Linked DNA regions of Homo sapiens: region 2 is linked to region 1. A link means that fine-mapping ties the variant in region 1 to the expression of a gene that starts in the linked region. Tissue or cell type: whole blood. Region 1 holds a variant in brackets; the other region holds the start of a gene. All regions are shown on one strand. Distances are from middle to middle.

Evidence for each region. PIP is the estimated chance that this variant, and not a neighbour inherited with it, causes the effect.
Region 2: it holds the start of MCCC2, and the variant in region 1 is fine-mapped to the expression of MCCC2 in whole blood (TOPMed, PIP above 0.99).

The regions. Positions count from the first base shown.
Region 1 is chr5:71,654,457-71,662,562 of GRCh38, reverse strand. It overlaps MCCC2 (methylcrotonyl-CoA carboxylase subunit 2), which reads right to left. Exons shown (of 17, transcript NM_022132.5): 17 at 3,857-5,820. The coding sequence ends at 5,703. Among named protein-coding and RNA genes, the nearest start is that of CARTPT, 61 kb to the left of the region's middle. The variant G/C (reference allele first, on the strand shown) is at 4,130.
Region 2 is chr5:71,584,236-71,592,341 of GRCh38, reverse strand. MCCC2 (methylcrotonyl-CoA carboxylase subunit 2) reads right to left here and starts at 5,002. Exons shown (of 17, transcript NM_022132.5): 1 at 4,788-5,002. The coding sequence starts at 4,916. It overlaps LOC124900999 (a long non-coding RNA gene), which reads right to left. Exons shown (of 4, transcript XR_007058810.1): 4 at 8,088-8,106. RefSeq lists an enhancer at 4,557-5,343.

The DNA of each region.
Region 1 (8,106 bases):
TGCTCAGTCTTCACAACTCGTTGCTAATGTGACATGGTCACTTAGACACAGCTTTTTTTTTTTTTTGAGACAGGGTCTCGCTCTGTTGCCCAGGCTGGGGTGCAGTGGCACGATCACAGTTCACTGCAGCCTTGGCCTCCCGGGCTCAAGTGATCCTCCCACCTCAGCCTTCTGAGTAGCTGGGACTACAGGCACACACTAGCATGCCTAGCTAATTTTTTATTTTTATTTTTTTGTAGAGACAGGGTTTCACCATGTTGCCCAGGTTGGTCTCAAACTCCTGGGCTCGCGCGATCTGCCTGCCTTGGCCTCCCAATGTGCTGGGATTACAGGCATGAACCACCATGCCCCAGCCTAGACACAACTTTTAACAATGAAAGAAAACATTGGTTTCTGCTAAACAATTTAATTCTATGGGAAGCTATTTCTGTATCTAAAAACACCACGGTAACCATTACATCCAGCAATAAATACCATAATATACACTTATAGAGCAAAACTTACCAACAAGTCTTAAAGGTCTGTGTATACTTTAACCTGTACACTTTTATCCAACAACACTATTGCTAAAAATGTATCCTAATAATCACAGATATGTAAAGAAACTAAACAGATGTTCACTGCAGCATTATCTGTAATGTGGGAAACCAGAAAAAACCTACAGGTACAACAATAGGGGAGTAGTTAAATCAAAGGGAGGATTCATGCACTGCATTATCGTGCAACATCAGAGTTATTGCAGAATATTAGGCTGGGTGCGGTGACTCACACCTGTAATTCCAGCACTTTGGGAGGCCAAAGTGGGTGGATCACCTGAGGTCAGGAGTTCGAGACCAGCCTGGCCAACATGGTGAAACCCCGTCTCTACTAAAAATACAAAAATTAGCTGGGTGTCGTGACGCGCGCCTGTAGTCCTAGCTACTCAGGAAGCTGAGGCAGGAGAATCACTTGAACCCCGGAGGCGGAGGTTGCAGTGAGCCGAGATCATGCCACTGCACTCCAGCCTGGGTAACAGAGTGAGATTCCATCTCAAAAAAGAAAAAAATTTGCAGAATATTAAATTTCATGTAAACAGGTCATTATATTTACAATACATTAAGTGAAATGCAGATTACAGAATAACATGTAGCACACAGCATTTTTGCAAAAAAAAAAAAATTCGTAAAGATAGAAAAAGACTAGTACACGAAAAATATTAATAGCAGTTATCTCTAGGTAGTGAGATTATGAAGCTTTTTTTTCACTTTATTTTCTTCACTTTGTCTTCCTAAATTTTCCGCAAGTAACATTGTTAGATTTTTAGATTACAAATAACTTTAAGACAAAAATTATTTCTAATTATCCGGTAGATAAAGGAATGTCATTAACAGTGCTGTGGCTGAAAAATGTTGAATACATTTTCTACAGGAACGTTTAAAATTAGTCTGAGTATTCTAAAATTCTACCTGTTTTTCTTCTGAGTTCACTTCTTACAATCAACACTTACTGAATTACACTTAAAAAAATTGTTTTTCTTGGTTGAGCACAATGGTTCATGCCTATAATTCCAGCACTTTTGGAGGCCAAGGCAGACGGGTCACTTGAGTCCAGGAGTTTGAAGCCAGCCTGGGCAACACGGCGAAAACACATCTCTGCTAACACAAAAATTACAAAATACAAAAATTAGCCGGACGTGATGGCATGTGCCCGAGTCCCAGCTACTCAGGAGGCTGAGGTGAGAGGATCACTTGAGCCCAAGGGGTAGAGGCTGTAGTGAGCCAAGATCACGCCACTGCACTCCAGCCTGGGCACTGGAGCGAGACCCTGACTCAAAAAAAAAAAATTTTTTTTTCTACTCCAGCTTACTTCTAACATCTGGTTCTGGGTATATTTTCCTTGCGATAACTTCTCTGTGAAATCATCACCTTCTAAGACCTTATTCTCCCTGAAAAATACTTCTCTTGCTTACCCTAAAAAGTAGCACAAACATGTGACTTGGTTTGTGAAAGACAAAGCTGCCAGACATATTGAACCACTGATCTCAGAAAACTAACAGCTGGGAAACAAAATCATCCCTGCCCTATGGTAAACTCTCCTCTAGGGTCAATTAAATGACTCCCTAGAATGCTAATGCACACATATTATGTGACTGGTATCATACTGAAATCTATATTGAAAGTCATGAAGCAGGTATCTTGAGCGAAGGCTTCTAAGAATTTTCAAAAGCTGATATGCAAACAAAGTATTCAGTCATGATGATGTTACAGGCAGCGAGCACACATCCCAGTTCAAACTGGGATGAGTCGGTCCCAGTTCAGACCTGTTTCCCAGTGTAGTTATTATTAAGACCCCCTTTTTCTCACTCTCAAAAGCCCCAATGTGGATGGTAAGTTACACAGTCAACTTGATGGAATGTACATTTGCCTAGAAAGGTAAAAGGGGCATAGAAATTTCATTCATCCCTAAGAAAAACTTAGTCCTCAGGATCCTGATTCCAGATACAAGAGAATTTGAAGCACATAAAATAAAAGCACTATTTATTTATTTACCTATTTATTTATTTATTAAGTAGAGACAGGGTCTTGCTATGTTGCCCAGGCTGTTCTCCAACCACTGGGCTCAAGCAATCCTCCTGCCTCACCCTCCTAAAGTGCTGGGATTACAGGTGTTAAGCCAGGGTGCCCCGCTGAAACAAACTATTTTTAAGCGTTTAGTGGAAAGGCACAAAACGTTTTGTCGAAAATGATTAAAATCTATGTCATCATTAAATATTAATTGTACTTAATTGTAACATTTTAAGGGAAATGTTATGAATGACACTAGGCTATGATAACCTAGTTCATCTTCTTGCCATTTTTCCATATATGAAACTTCAGAACCAATCATTAGAAGATCACTAAGAAAAAAAAAATCGCCAAGACTCTTAGTGGAGATTTAATCTTCCATAAAACCAAACTCAATGCATTTTAGAACTAATGTGGCCTCTCAAAAATAATCTTATTAATGTATCATTCCAAAACCTGCTTTGATTTATCCCTGTGAAGGAAACATATGGCCTCTCTCTGGAGAGACATACACATAAGCATGTTGGCAAATGATGGTGTCACTCAAACACTCAATAGTGCCTTCTGCTGGTGCAGAAGTGTTTTTTTTTTTTTAACAAATTCGATTTGAAAATACTTTTCTTATAAACTGAAAAATAGAAGTAATCTTGTCTTTTTCATTCTTTAAGTACCAACAGGGGCAAATTTAGAGACTAACTTGTATATTTCTTCAAATTCCAAGTAGCTCATATTATCCTTGCTGGAATTCATATTTATGATAGTCAAAATGTTTAAAAAGTATTACCTATTTTGGTAAGACAATTATAAATGTTTATTGTTGGGTAAAATATACAAAATAGAGCAAGGCGTAGTGGTGCAAGCTTGTAGTCCCAGCTACTTGGGAGGCTGAAGCAGGAGGATTGCTTGAGCCTAGGAGTTCGAGTCCAGCCTGGGCAACATAGCAAGACCCTGCCTCTAGAAAAATAAGTTTTAAAAAATCCAATTCACTTAAATGTGGTTTTATTGATGGACAGTTTCTTCCCAGAAAAGCAAAAGCAGTCCTAAAATATCCATGAATCCTTGACTTGTTAATGGTTCCTACCAAAGGAATATTACCTAGTCTTTATATAGAAAATCATTTTGACATAGATGTGCATTTTCATTAAAATTTTAATATTACTATTTTAATATACTTAATGTATTGCTTCTGAAAATGTAACCTACCACTGAATTTGATCATCTATCTATATTCTCCCCACAAAAACTAAATTGACTTCCTGGTACACATTGAACATCACACACAAATGTTTAAAATACTAAATATCACACACAAATGTTTGAAATATTGACTTTATTAGGAAAACATTTGATAGTTCTATTCGGTCATATAATCAATCACCTAATTTTAAAACTATGTGGCCAGAGGACATCAATTACAATATGGATTTTTCATTCATTCAACGAATATTTGAGCACCTACAAGTGCCAGACATTGGAGGTACAGGGTAAACAGGAGGATCCTTGCTCTCACGGAGCTTACATTCTAGCAGGAGGACAATATTAATGTTTATAGGAAAATGATGAGTTTATGACAAAGGAAGTAGATA[G/C]TGTTTTACAAGAGCATAGAGTAGGGAAGCTAATCCAGCACAGGGAGGTCACAGAGACATCCCTAAGGAAGTGGAGTTTAAACTGAGAGAAGCAAGTGCTTAAACTGAAGGATGTGTTGAAGAAGAAGGGAGAGTAGAACAATTTGGGCAGAGGGAACCTTATAGACCCTAAGGTGGGAAGGTTCAAAGAACTGAAAGAGAGCTAGAACAGCTGGAGCCGTTCTCCGGTGTAAAGAGGAGTCAAAGAGATAAGATTAAAGATGTGAAGATTAAGATCTTGGTGGCATTCAGGGATTGGCACTTCTACAAGAAATCACTGAAGGGAGTAATCTGACATTACTTTTCACTTCAGGATGGCCATTCTAACTCCAGGGGGTAGACTGGACTAGGTAAGACTGGAGGCAGGTAGACCTCTTCTAAGGCCTGCGATAGTGAAAGACAAAAATAAGTGGGGAAATTCAGGGGATAGTGAAAATCAGTAGGACTTAATGAGCAAGCCAGAGGTTCCTCCACAACAACCAGTACAGATGTCCAGTAGACCTACTGGATATGCAGGCCTGCAGCTCAGGGGAGAGCTGGGTTAAGAACCGTCAAGGCAGTAATCATCTGCATTTAGATGGCGAGTGAAGCCATGACAGGGGCTGAAATGGCCCAGCAAGAATAAATCAAACCATGAGAAACACATACATTTAAGAATAAGGAGATGTGGTCAGGCGCGGTGGCTCACACCTGTAATCCCAGCACTTTGGGAGGCCGAGGCGGGTGGATCACTTGAGGTCAGTAGTTTGAGACCAGCCTGGGCAACCTAGTGAAATCCCGTCTCTGCTAAAAATACAGAACTTAGCTGGGTGTGGTGGTGCGTGCCTATAGTCCCAGCTGCTTGGGAGGCTGAGGCACAAGAATCGCTTGAACCCGGGAGGTGGAAGCTGCAGTGAGCCGAGATCACACCACCGCACTCCAGCCTGGGCAACAGAGAAACACCCTGTCTCAAAAAAAAAATAATAATAAGGAGATGTCATGGGCTCGGGGGAGGGGGAAATGGGGAGCGCTGTTGTTTGAATGGTATAGTTTCAGTTTGGGACTGAGAACAAATTCTGGAGATGAATGGTGGTGATGGCTGCACAGCAGTGTGAGGGCACTTTATGCCACTGAAGTAACAGATGCCTTTCAAAAATAAGCCCGCTAAAATATCACCAAGCATAACCAGCAAAACAATCATTTCAGTGAAAATACAACTTTATATTAATCATCTCAATAATACAGATTACAGAACTGAGTTTACAGATTACAGAACTTTTCATACTTTGTGGGTCAGAAAGGATAACCGTAAATTACTGTCTCCGCTTTATGGGTGGTAAAACTGAGCCACAGAGAAATTTCTCTAAGAAAATTTAAAAGGAATTGATGTTCATTAAATAAATATCCTCACTGATTTTTTTAAGGTAGAAAAGTACAATGCACAGTGTTAAAAAAATTACTGTAACAGCCTCATGTTCGAGAAGTCTAAAATTTTAAGGCTACTACATGTGTTAATTTTCAGTACATGTCCAACAGAAAACATCCTTTATTCCAGTTACATCCTGAAGATACCGAAGTCAGTCTTCTCTATTGGTGCGTTGAGGGCTGCACTAAAACTGAGACCCAAGACCAGTCTGGTGTCTGCTGGATCAATGATCCCATCATCCCATACCCTGACAAAAGAACAAAAAAAGAGTTATGAATTTACCACCAAACTACCATTTATACACTCTCCATGTGCAGAAATGCCAAGGAAGTTTTCCTTCAGGTAATATATGGATCTACTGATTAGCATCCATGTACCATAATCTCACAACAGAAACTACGTTCAAGACAGAGGGGGAAAACGTGGAAAAAAATGATATGACCTTCATCCCAGGCCACCACAGAATGTCATGTCAGGCTTAAGGCTTAAGGAACTACTTTTATAAGAGATCTCAAAGTAACCCCTAATTTGACAATACGTTTACTTATTTCAGGAAAAATTTTCCTATTCCTTTTCTTCCCACACAAATATATAAGCCAAGTTGGTGTATTCTGTCATTAATATGCAGAACCACATATACCCAGGTAATAACCTCAAACTTTACTGGAAAATGTATATTCCCCAACCCCCATCCAAACTCTTAAGAAACTATGAAAATTATTGAATAGGCTTCAGTACATTTTATCTTATTTATTATTATTATTATTTTTGAGATGGAGTCTCGCTCTGTCACCCAGGCTGGAGTGCAGTGCAGTGGCACGATCTCAGTTCACTGCAATCTCCGCCCTCTGGGTTCAAGCAATTCTCCTGCCTCAGCCTCCCTAGCAGCTGGTATTACAGGAGTGCGCTACCACACTTGGCTAATTTTTGTATTTGTAGAAGAGACGGGGTTTCGCCATGTTGGCCAGGCCAGTTTTGAACTCCTGACCTCAGGTGATCCGCCCACCTCAGCCTCCCAAAGTGCTGCGATTACAGGCGTGAGCCACCACACCCGGCCAGCTTCAGTACATTTTATTAATAAAATAGATACCTTCAAATGTAGGTCTTTATTTTTTGCTACAATAGGAAAAACAATAACTTTAAACTGCTTGCAGAAGAAACTTTTAAGTAGAAATTTTAGTTTCCTTCTCATTGACAACCTCAAATGTATAACGAAAAATGACTGAGAAATATTACTTTTTAAAGGTTATTAGTAGGTGGCAGTTTGCTTTTTTTATATAAACTCCCTTCGGTATCTGAACCTGGCATCAACTATTAAACCATTCTTACATTGACAGACATGAATCAAACCTTTGCTCATAAAACATTCATAATAGGGACCCTAAAGTATCAACACCCAATAAAAAGAAAGCCACTCTTGTCATCTGCAACCAGGTGAATTGATTACACTCCCTCTGAAGCCTGCAGCACAGCAAGCATGGTGATGAAGGGGCTGCTTAATAATGTTCATTAAAAAGACTGCCCCAGGTAAGAGGCACTAATGAAATGCCGGATAAAAGTTTGATTATAAAAACAACTGAGCAGAAGCAAATTGGCACGCTACATATGTAACCTATTAGGATTAAGGAAAACATTGTAGGTTTCAGTAACTGATAATAACAAGCTCTGTCTCTGAAAAGACAGATCTAGCCATGTTCAAACCTAAGCAGGCCAGGGAATTTTACTGTGAAGCTGAGATTTACTAAACCCAAGGAAGGTACCATAAACTGGCTTGGAAATCCTTTCAGCTTTGAAAGAAAGCTGCTGTCTCCATGCCACCAGCTGTTTCAACAGAAGGGTTAAACATCTACAGATCTGGCCAGGTGCAGTGGCTCATGCCTGTAATCCCAGTACTTTGGGAAGCCGAGGCGGGTGGATCACCTGAGGTTGGGAGTTCGAGACAAGCCTGACCAACATGGAGAAACCCCATCTCTATTAAAAATACAAAATTAGCCAGGCGTGGTGGCACACGCCTGTAATCCCAGCTACTCGGGAGGCTGAGGCAGGAGAATCCCTTGAACCCAGGAGGCGGAAGTTGCAGTGAGCCGAGATCATGCCATTGCACTCCAGCCTGGGCAACAAGAAACTCTGTCTCAAAAAAAAAAAAAAAAAATCTACAGATCCACAGAAAACTTTACTGTCTGTTAACATTTATTTCCAAAGATAAGTCTCTCTGGGCCATTTACTCTTCTGCCTTGAATGTAATCCATTAAAAAATAATAATAATGTTAGTATGAAAATAATAAAAGATGCAATCTTTCTCAAGAGATGATTTATCTTAGCCAGGGCTGAAAAACAAGCTAACAGCTCACACAAAATACACAATTTTTCAAACTTTAATATTTCAGCTGTCCCTGTGTATTTCAGTCAAAATCTTATGTGGAAAAAAAAAACTATAGAAAAGCTTAACAATATATATTTTATATTTCATCTCAAACCTCTTATACGGCTTTCTATTGCTTCTTTCCATTTACTGGCTACTATATGTCTGTTT
Region 2 (8,106 bases), 70 kb after region 1:
TGGTGCAATCTCGGCTCACTGCAACCTCCGCCTCCCGAGATCAAGCGATTCTCCTGCCTCAGCCTCCTAAGTAGCTGGGACTACAGGTGTGTGCCACCATGCCCAGCTAATTATTGTATTTTTAATAGAGACCGGGTTTCGCCATGTTGGCCAGGCTGATCTCAAACTCCTTACCTCAAGTGATTTGCCCATCTCGGCCTCCCAAAGTGCTGGGATTACAGGCATGAGCCACCGCACCTGGCCAAGGATCCTATTTTATGTTTTAAAAAGAACAGGCTGAGTGTGGTGGCTTATGTCTGTTATCCCAGAGCTTTGGAAGGCGGAGGCAGGAGCATCGCTTAAGCCCAGGAGTTTGAGACCAGCCTGAGTAACATAGGGAGACTTCCATCTTTACAAAAAGAATAAAAATAAAAAGAATAAAAATTTAAAAATTATCTGGGCATGGTGGTGTGTCCCAGCGACTTGACCAACTAAGGTGGAAGGATCTCTTGAGCCCAGGAGTTTGAAGCTGCAGTGAACTAGGATCGTGCCATTGTACTCCAGCCTGGGTGACAGAGCAAGACTGTTTCAAATAAATAAATAAATTAGTAAAAAGAACAAAACTCGGCCAGCCGTGGTGGCTCACGCCTGTAATCTCAGCACTTTGGGAGGCCGAGGCGGGCAGATCACCTACGGTCGGGAGTTCGAGACCAGCCTGACCAACATGGAGAAAACTCGTCTCTACTAAAAAATACAAAATTAGCCAGGCAAGGTGGTGCTTGCCTGTAATCCCAGCTACTCGGGAGGCTGAGGCAGGAGAATCCCTCGAACCCGGGAGGCGGAGGTTGCAGTGAGCCAAGATTGCATCATTGCACTCCAGCCTGGGCAACAAGAGCAAAACTCCATCTCAAAAAAAAAAAAAAAAAAACAGAACAAAACTCTATGCTGGCATATATACACAAATTAAGTAATACACAAGGAAATATTGACAGTGAGAAGTAGAAAAGAGGTAGAGGGACTAACTTTTCACCCTTCTGTATTTTTAAATTTTGTTTGGTCAGCATATTACTTTAGAACAATACTTAACTAGCTAATTATCTTTGAAATTCAGACTTGGCCCACTAATACATTTTGCTCCCCATGTGATTAGCATCTCTAGTTATTTAGTTCCTTCTGTTTGACAGAACACTAAGCAACTTCCTAACTGTTCAAACTTAGATGAATATTCAGTCTACAGTATATCTCCATTATTTCCTATTTTCTACAGCTCCAAGAGCTCTGAGGGTCATGATTTCTGCTACATTCTCTTGCTCTGCAAAATCCAGAAAATAAAAAACAAGGAAGCAGCATGGTATTAGGGAAAGAACCAGTTGGAGCTAACACAATATACAGAACTTGTCACCCTACAACAGCAGAAAAAAGTATGTAACTTTTCTCAAGTGCACAGGCAACATTCTCCAAGATAGACTACATGTCAGGCCACAAAACAAATCTTAATAAATTTTAAAAGACTGAAATCATACAAAGTATCCTTTTTTTTTTTTTTGAGACGGAGTCTGGCCGTGTCGCCCAGGCTGGAGTGCAGTAGCACAGTCTCAGCTCACTGCAACCTCCGCCTCCCGGGTTCAAGCGACTCTCCTGCCTCACACTCCCAAGTAGCTGGGATTACAGGCGTGCGCCACCATGCCCAGGTAATTTTTTTATTTTTAGTGGAGACAGGGTTTCACCATGTTGGCCAGGCTGGTCTAGAACTCCTGACCTCAGGTGATCCACCAGCCTCGGCCTCCCAAAGCGCTAGGATTACAGGCCTGAGCCACCATGCCTGGCCCAAAAGTATCCTTTCAATCACAATGGAATGAAACTAGAAATCAATGGCAGAAGGATGACTGGAAAATTCACAAATATATGGAAATTAAACAACGTACTTTTAAGCAACCAGTGGGTCAAAGAAGAAAAGCACTGACCCACTGAAGCTGACATTTGCCTCTACAGACTGGGCAACATCTGTGCCAAGCTCAGCCCATCAGACTTAAATCACAGAAGAGCCAGTACTGGCTACAGTTCACCTCCCAGGCAATCCTTTATCAACCAACCTAGCCTCCTTAGGATGAGACTCACTAACCAAGAGGCAGTGTAGTTTAGTGGCAAAACCAAGTTCAACTTTCAGTTTCCCTACTTACTGATACTGCATTTGGCAAATCTTGATCTCTCAGGACGCCAGGTGTTTGTGTTTGTGTGTGTGTGTGTGTGTGTTTTAATCACCTGCGAAACAACATTCTACAACCTAGTAATTTTCTTGTGAAGCTGAGCAACCACAGAGGTTAGTGCCTGACAGTCATAATGAATTGGAGCTGAGCCACTGACAAGTTTCCCACCCCATCTTTTCAACCATAGAACCCACCTAGGTAGAGCTGGGTGAGTGAGAAGCATTATAGAGCAACAGTTAAGACCCTGGACTCAAGAGTTATGAGCCAGACCACCTGGCTTCAAATTCAGGCTCTGTGTTATCTCAGACAAATTTCTTGGACCCTATATACCACAGTTTTCCCATCTATAAAACAGAAATAACAATTGTACCTACTGCACAGGATCATTATGATAAATACATGAGTAAAACCACATAAAGCCTTTAGAAAAATGGTGGGTACACTATAAAATTCCTGCCATTATTATTACTTATTATAGTTGCTTTTATTTGTAATCAGGAAACACAGCTAAACTGGATCATTCATCCCATTCTCCCCCACCCTCATGGACTTGCTTTGTCTAATGTGAGCACACATTAATTTCATCACATGCCAGCAAGGATTTTAAATCCAATTTGTGTTCAGCCTCTTGCTCCTGTGCCTTCGGCCATGAGAAGGGCATGTTTAATTCAGGGCTGCTCTTCAGCCTCAGTCCAGGAATGGGAAGACACATGGAGCAGACCTGAACCTACCCTGCAGTGGAACAGTCACAGCAGCAGCTAACCAAAGGCCACCAACACGAGTGAGAGATTAAGAAACAAAACAAAATCAAGTGAGAGACTAATATTTACTGTTGTGAGTTACTGAGATTTTTTGATTATTTGTTACACAAAGCGCAACCTAGCAAAAGGTGATTCATACAAAACCCATCACCAAAGCCTTCTTTGTATTAATGGCAGTTCCACCTAACTAAATATTCTGCCCAGTTGGAAACTCCAAAGTCATCCATTTTCCCCTTCCACTCAGTTATTAACTCTATAATCTTTGCTCCTCAGGTATTTATGCCCCCCTCCTACATACAACTCTAACTTTGACTCCTTCATCTCAAGACTCAACTCTCCACTGTCACCTAGGTCTAGTCTTTTCCCTATATCAATCCATCCTCCACATTGCCACCACACTGATGATTCTACCATATCCATAGGATCATGCCACTTATCTACTTAAATATTTTAATGGACAACCTGCCAAATGGAATCTAAATGTGGCTTTTGCATGGAAGATCCTCCTCTATCTGGCCCCATAATCAATCAATCCCATCACCAGACACTATTCAATGAATTCCATGTCCTAGACATGGAATTCAAGTCCTCACACCAGATATACACTTTCATAACTCAGTACCTATGTTCTTGTAACTCTCTTGGTTTATACAGTCTTACCTTCCATCCTGCACCCTGAACTTGGCCAGCTCTTACCCAAGATTCATCTCACCCATTACTTCCTATCGGTAGCTTTCTGTAACCACCTTCTCAAGCTTTAGACAACCCTTCTTACACTGTACCACAGTTACCTGCTTTCTTGTCCATCTTCCCTACAAAATTATTAGTTCCATTCCTACGCATCCATGCCAAATATCTAAAATAGTGCCTAGACCACAATAACCACTTAATAATTCTGAATTAAACATTCTGGACTGACAAACAATTGTGTGTTGTTTGCACTATTTAGATGTTATCTGTATAGGCTTAGAAATCGTGGGAACACAGTGAAATTTTCCAGCTCTGATATTTCGCAAGTTTTGAGTTTTTTGGCCTTATGATGCCTCCTAATTCCAAGAAAAGCCACTCAAAGATACTGTGGGATATTTTCTATTAACATAACCAACTTTTTTTTTTTTTTTTTTTTGAGACAGAGTTCGCTCTTGTTGCCAAGGCTGGAGTGCAATGGCACGATCTCAGCTCACTGCAACCTCCGCCTCCCAAGTTCAAGCGATTCCCCTGCCTCAGCCTCCCAGGTAGCTGGGATTACAGGCGCGCGCCACCATGCCCGGCTAATTTTTGTATTCTTAGTAGAGATGGGGTTTCACCACGTTGGCCAGGCTGTTCTCGAACTCCTGATCTCAGGTAATCCACCCGCCAGGGCCTCCCAAAGCGCTGGGATTACAGGCGTGAGCCACTGGGCTCGGCCATCATAATCAACTTTTAAACTCAAATTTCCTAAGCACAGCGCCCCTCGTTGGGCTGCTCTAGGCCAGTGGTTCCCAAAGCTGGCTGCCAAAAGTCCCCTAATGAGTTCACTAACAATATAAACACAGCGACTCCACCTGAGACCCACAAGGTCCAGAGTAGGGCTCAGGCAGCTATTCAGCTAGCTCCCCAGGTGGCAATTCTAAACCAGGCTTTAAGAACCACTGATTTCAAAGACACAAAGTACAGTGCCAGCTCTAAAAGTGAACTAAACTTTCTTGTATCTGTTAGGCTTTTCTTCTTCAAACTTCACGTGCGTCACAGAATCAACTGGGGCTCCGGACAAGAGAGCAGCAGTTGTTGAAGCGTGCCCCTCCTCCACTTGCTTCCTAGCCTGGCACCGGCGGCCAGGCCACCGGGGCGCTCAGCCTACCTGGTAGAGGGCAGAGCCCAAGTCCGGCTGGGTGCCCAGCGAGGCCACCGAGTCCCCGTGATAGGCGCGCGGCCCGGCGGGAGAGGCGCGGGCACACGGCCGCAGGGCTAACCTCAGGACGGCCCACATGGCGGCGGGCACCGAGCGAGAGAGCGGCCCACGCTGGCCTGGAGCCGGTGCTTTCCCCTGCCGCTTCCCTGGCTGGGGCGGAAGCTGAGCTCAGGTCCTTGCAGCCCCAGAGAAGGTTTCTCTGATTCTCAGGCCTGTCCACACACGTGCCTAAGCGCGCCGCCCGCGATTGGTCAAGCCGCGCCACGCCCCCTGACCCAGCCAATAAGGGACAGAGCCTCAGCCCCGCGAGGTCGCGTCTAGTCCCGAGCGCAGGAGAGCAGGTCTCCCCGGCGGATCGACCCTCACGAAGCGGTGCGGCAGTGAGAGAGCTGCGGTTGGGCTTGGATTGGTGTTGTGTTGACACAGCGATAGATAATATCACGATAGTGACTGTACCTAAGGCAGGAGAATAAGTCTGGAAGCAGGGAACCTAAGGCTGTCTCACGCTGACTTCCTAGAGCTAAACTGAAAGGAAAACCCTAACTTTCCATGCCTAAGTAACAAAAGGACCAAAGGCTACTCCCTTTGCAAACCCCCCCACCTTTTCCGCAGGGCAGATAGGAAATTGGCTGTCCCCGACAAATCAGACTTACTGCTGGTGGAGGCTTGCTTTGCCAAGTTTGAACCTTAACTCCAGCCTCTGAATGGTTGCTGTCCACAACCAATCAGACTGATTGGGGGTCCAGTCTTCGTTTGCATAGAAGTATAACTTTGTAATTTCACCCTAGCCTCTGACTGCTTGCTTCTTGCAACCAATCGGGTTTGAGGTGAGCATAAAATGGCCAATAGGAAACTTCTAGTGGGTATTTGGACCCAAGAAGATTCTATATCCGGGCCCTTGAGCTCTGCTCGGTCCGCTCCCACATTGTGGAGTGCACTTTCGTTTTCGGTAAATCCCTGCTTTCGTTCTTTCGTTGCCTTGTTCTTTCTTTGCTTTGCTGGGCGTTTTGTCCAATTCTTTGTTCACAATGCCAAGAACCTGGACAACTTGCAGTCACAACCCCCAGTGACACACCAACAACATGAGTGAATCGCATCTAACACGTGCTTGCGAACAGCACAACAAGCCTGTTGTCCTTTCACTGGAGACCTTAAACATTCTTCTGATTATTTTCGCTATGTAGTTATTTTTATTTTTTACTTTATTTCATTTTTTGAGACAGGGCCTCACTCTGTCGCCCAGGCTGCAATGCAGTGGCACGATCACAGCTCGCTGAATCCTTGACCTCCCACCTCAGCCTTTCCAGTAGCTGAGACTACAGGTTTGTGCCACCAAGCCCGGCTAATTTTTTATTTTTGTAGGGGTTTCACCATGTTGGCTATGCTGGTCTTGAACTCCTGGACTCAAGCGATCTGCCCGCCACAGCCTCCCAAAGTGCTGGGATTACAGACATGAGCCACCACACCAGGCACTATGTAGTGACAGATTGTGGACATCAGCACTGTGGTCTTAAATAAAGGACTCCAAATATACCCATAAAAATTAAAACATTCTATACAAAATGCCTTGAACTTAAGGTTTTTCATTCACATATTTATTGAGCACTTACTACTTCTACTCCATTGGTTGCTTAGTGGGGCAGAGTAAAGGGGGAGGATGGGGTAGAGAAAGGGTGCGTCTACACCTGGAGGTAAACTTAGGTTCAGACTTCAAGGTACTTATAAGAAAATAATACAAATGGCCACATGATTTCTTACTGAACTGTGTAGGACAGACATTAAAGGAACAGAATGCAATTGGGAAAGGGTTGCAGCTGAGCCTTGCAGAAGCGTTGAGAGTGGACTGAGCAATGAACATGGCCAGGCTTTGTGCAAATGGAGGAGAGCATGAGCTAAACTGCAAAGGTATGATTTACACTGTGCTTGCCTCCCATGGTCAACAGAAAAAAAGGCCAGTAAAAACTGACTTTTCATATGTATCAGGGTATCAGAAGAGAGGGTTTGATATTTTAATTGCCACACTTTATTTTTCTCTAAATAGTTCTTCAATGATGCAAAGTACTTAAAATCACCACCCGAAGACAGAAAAGACACAATAGGATATGATTCCTTGCTTTCTTTAAAAGTCATACCTGTTTTGGCCGGGTGCAGTGGCTCATGCCTATCATCCTAGCACTTTGGAAGGCCAAGGCAGGTGGATTATCTGAGGTCAGAAGTTTGAGAGCAGCCTGGCCAACATGGTGGAACCTCATCTCTACTAAGAATACAAAAATTAGCCAGGCATAGTATCACGTGCCTGTAATCCCAGCTACCTGGGAGGCTGAGGCAGGAGAATCGCTGGAACCCGAGAGGCAGAGTCTGCAGTGAGCCGACATGGCACCACTGCACTCCAGCCTGGGTGACAGAGCAAGACTCTGTCTCAAAAAAAAAAAAAAAAAAAGTCATACATGTTTCTTATTTCTTGTAACTTTTGTTACAAGAAGCTCTTTGGAAATGTATAATGTTCCCAGAACAGCTAAGTAGAAAAATGCAAAAGGTGAAGTGCAAATGCACAGAAGGCCAAAAGCAGTCACCTAGCATCTGTTAGTGTCCAGTGTCTCTCTACCCCACTATTGAGATTACAAGGAACATAATCTTTGCCATCTCTGATTTTTTAAAATAATGTTTTATTGAGGCCAGGAACTTGAAACTAGCCTAGGCAACATAGTGAGCCCATGTCTCTGAAAAATAAAAATAGCCATGCACAGTGGCATGTGCTTGTAGTCCTAGCTACTTGGAGGGTGAGGTGAGAGAATCACTTGAGTCCAGGAGTTTGAGGCTGCAGTGGGCCATGATCTTGCCAAGCACTTCAGCCTGAGTGACAAGAGCTAGACCCTGTCTCTAAAAAAAACAATAAAAATAAAATAAAAATAAAGTAAAATAATGTTTTTATTTTATTTATTTATTTATTTATTTTTCTGAGAGGGAGTCTCGCTCTGTCGCCCAGGCTGGAGTGCAGTGGCACGATCTCGGCTCACTGCAAGCTCCGCCTCCCGGGTTCATGCCATTCTCCTGCCTCAGCCTCCCGAGTAGCTGGGACTACAGGTGCCCGCCACCACACCTGGCTAATTTTTCATATTTTTAGTAGAAACCGGGTTTCACCGTGTTAGCCAGGATGGTCTCGATCTCCTGACCTCGTGATCCACCCACCTCGGCCTCCCAAAGTGCTGGGATTACAGGCGTGAGCCACCGCGCCTGGCCAAAATAATGTTTTATATAATAAAAATAA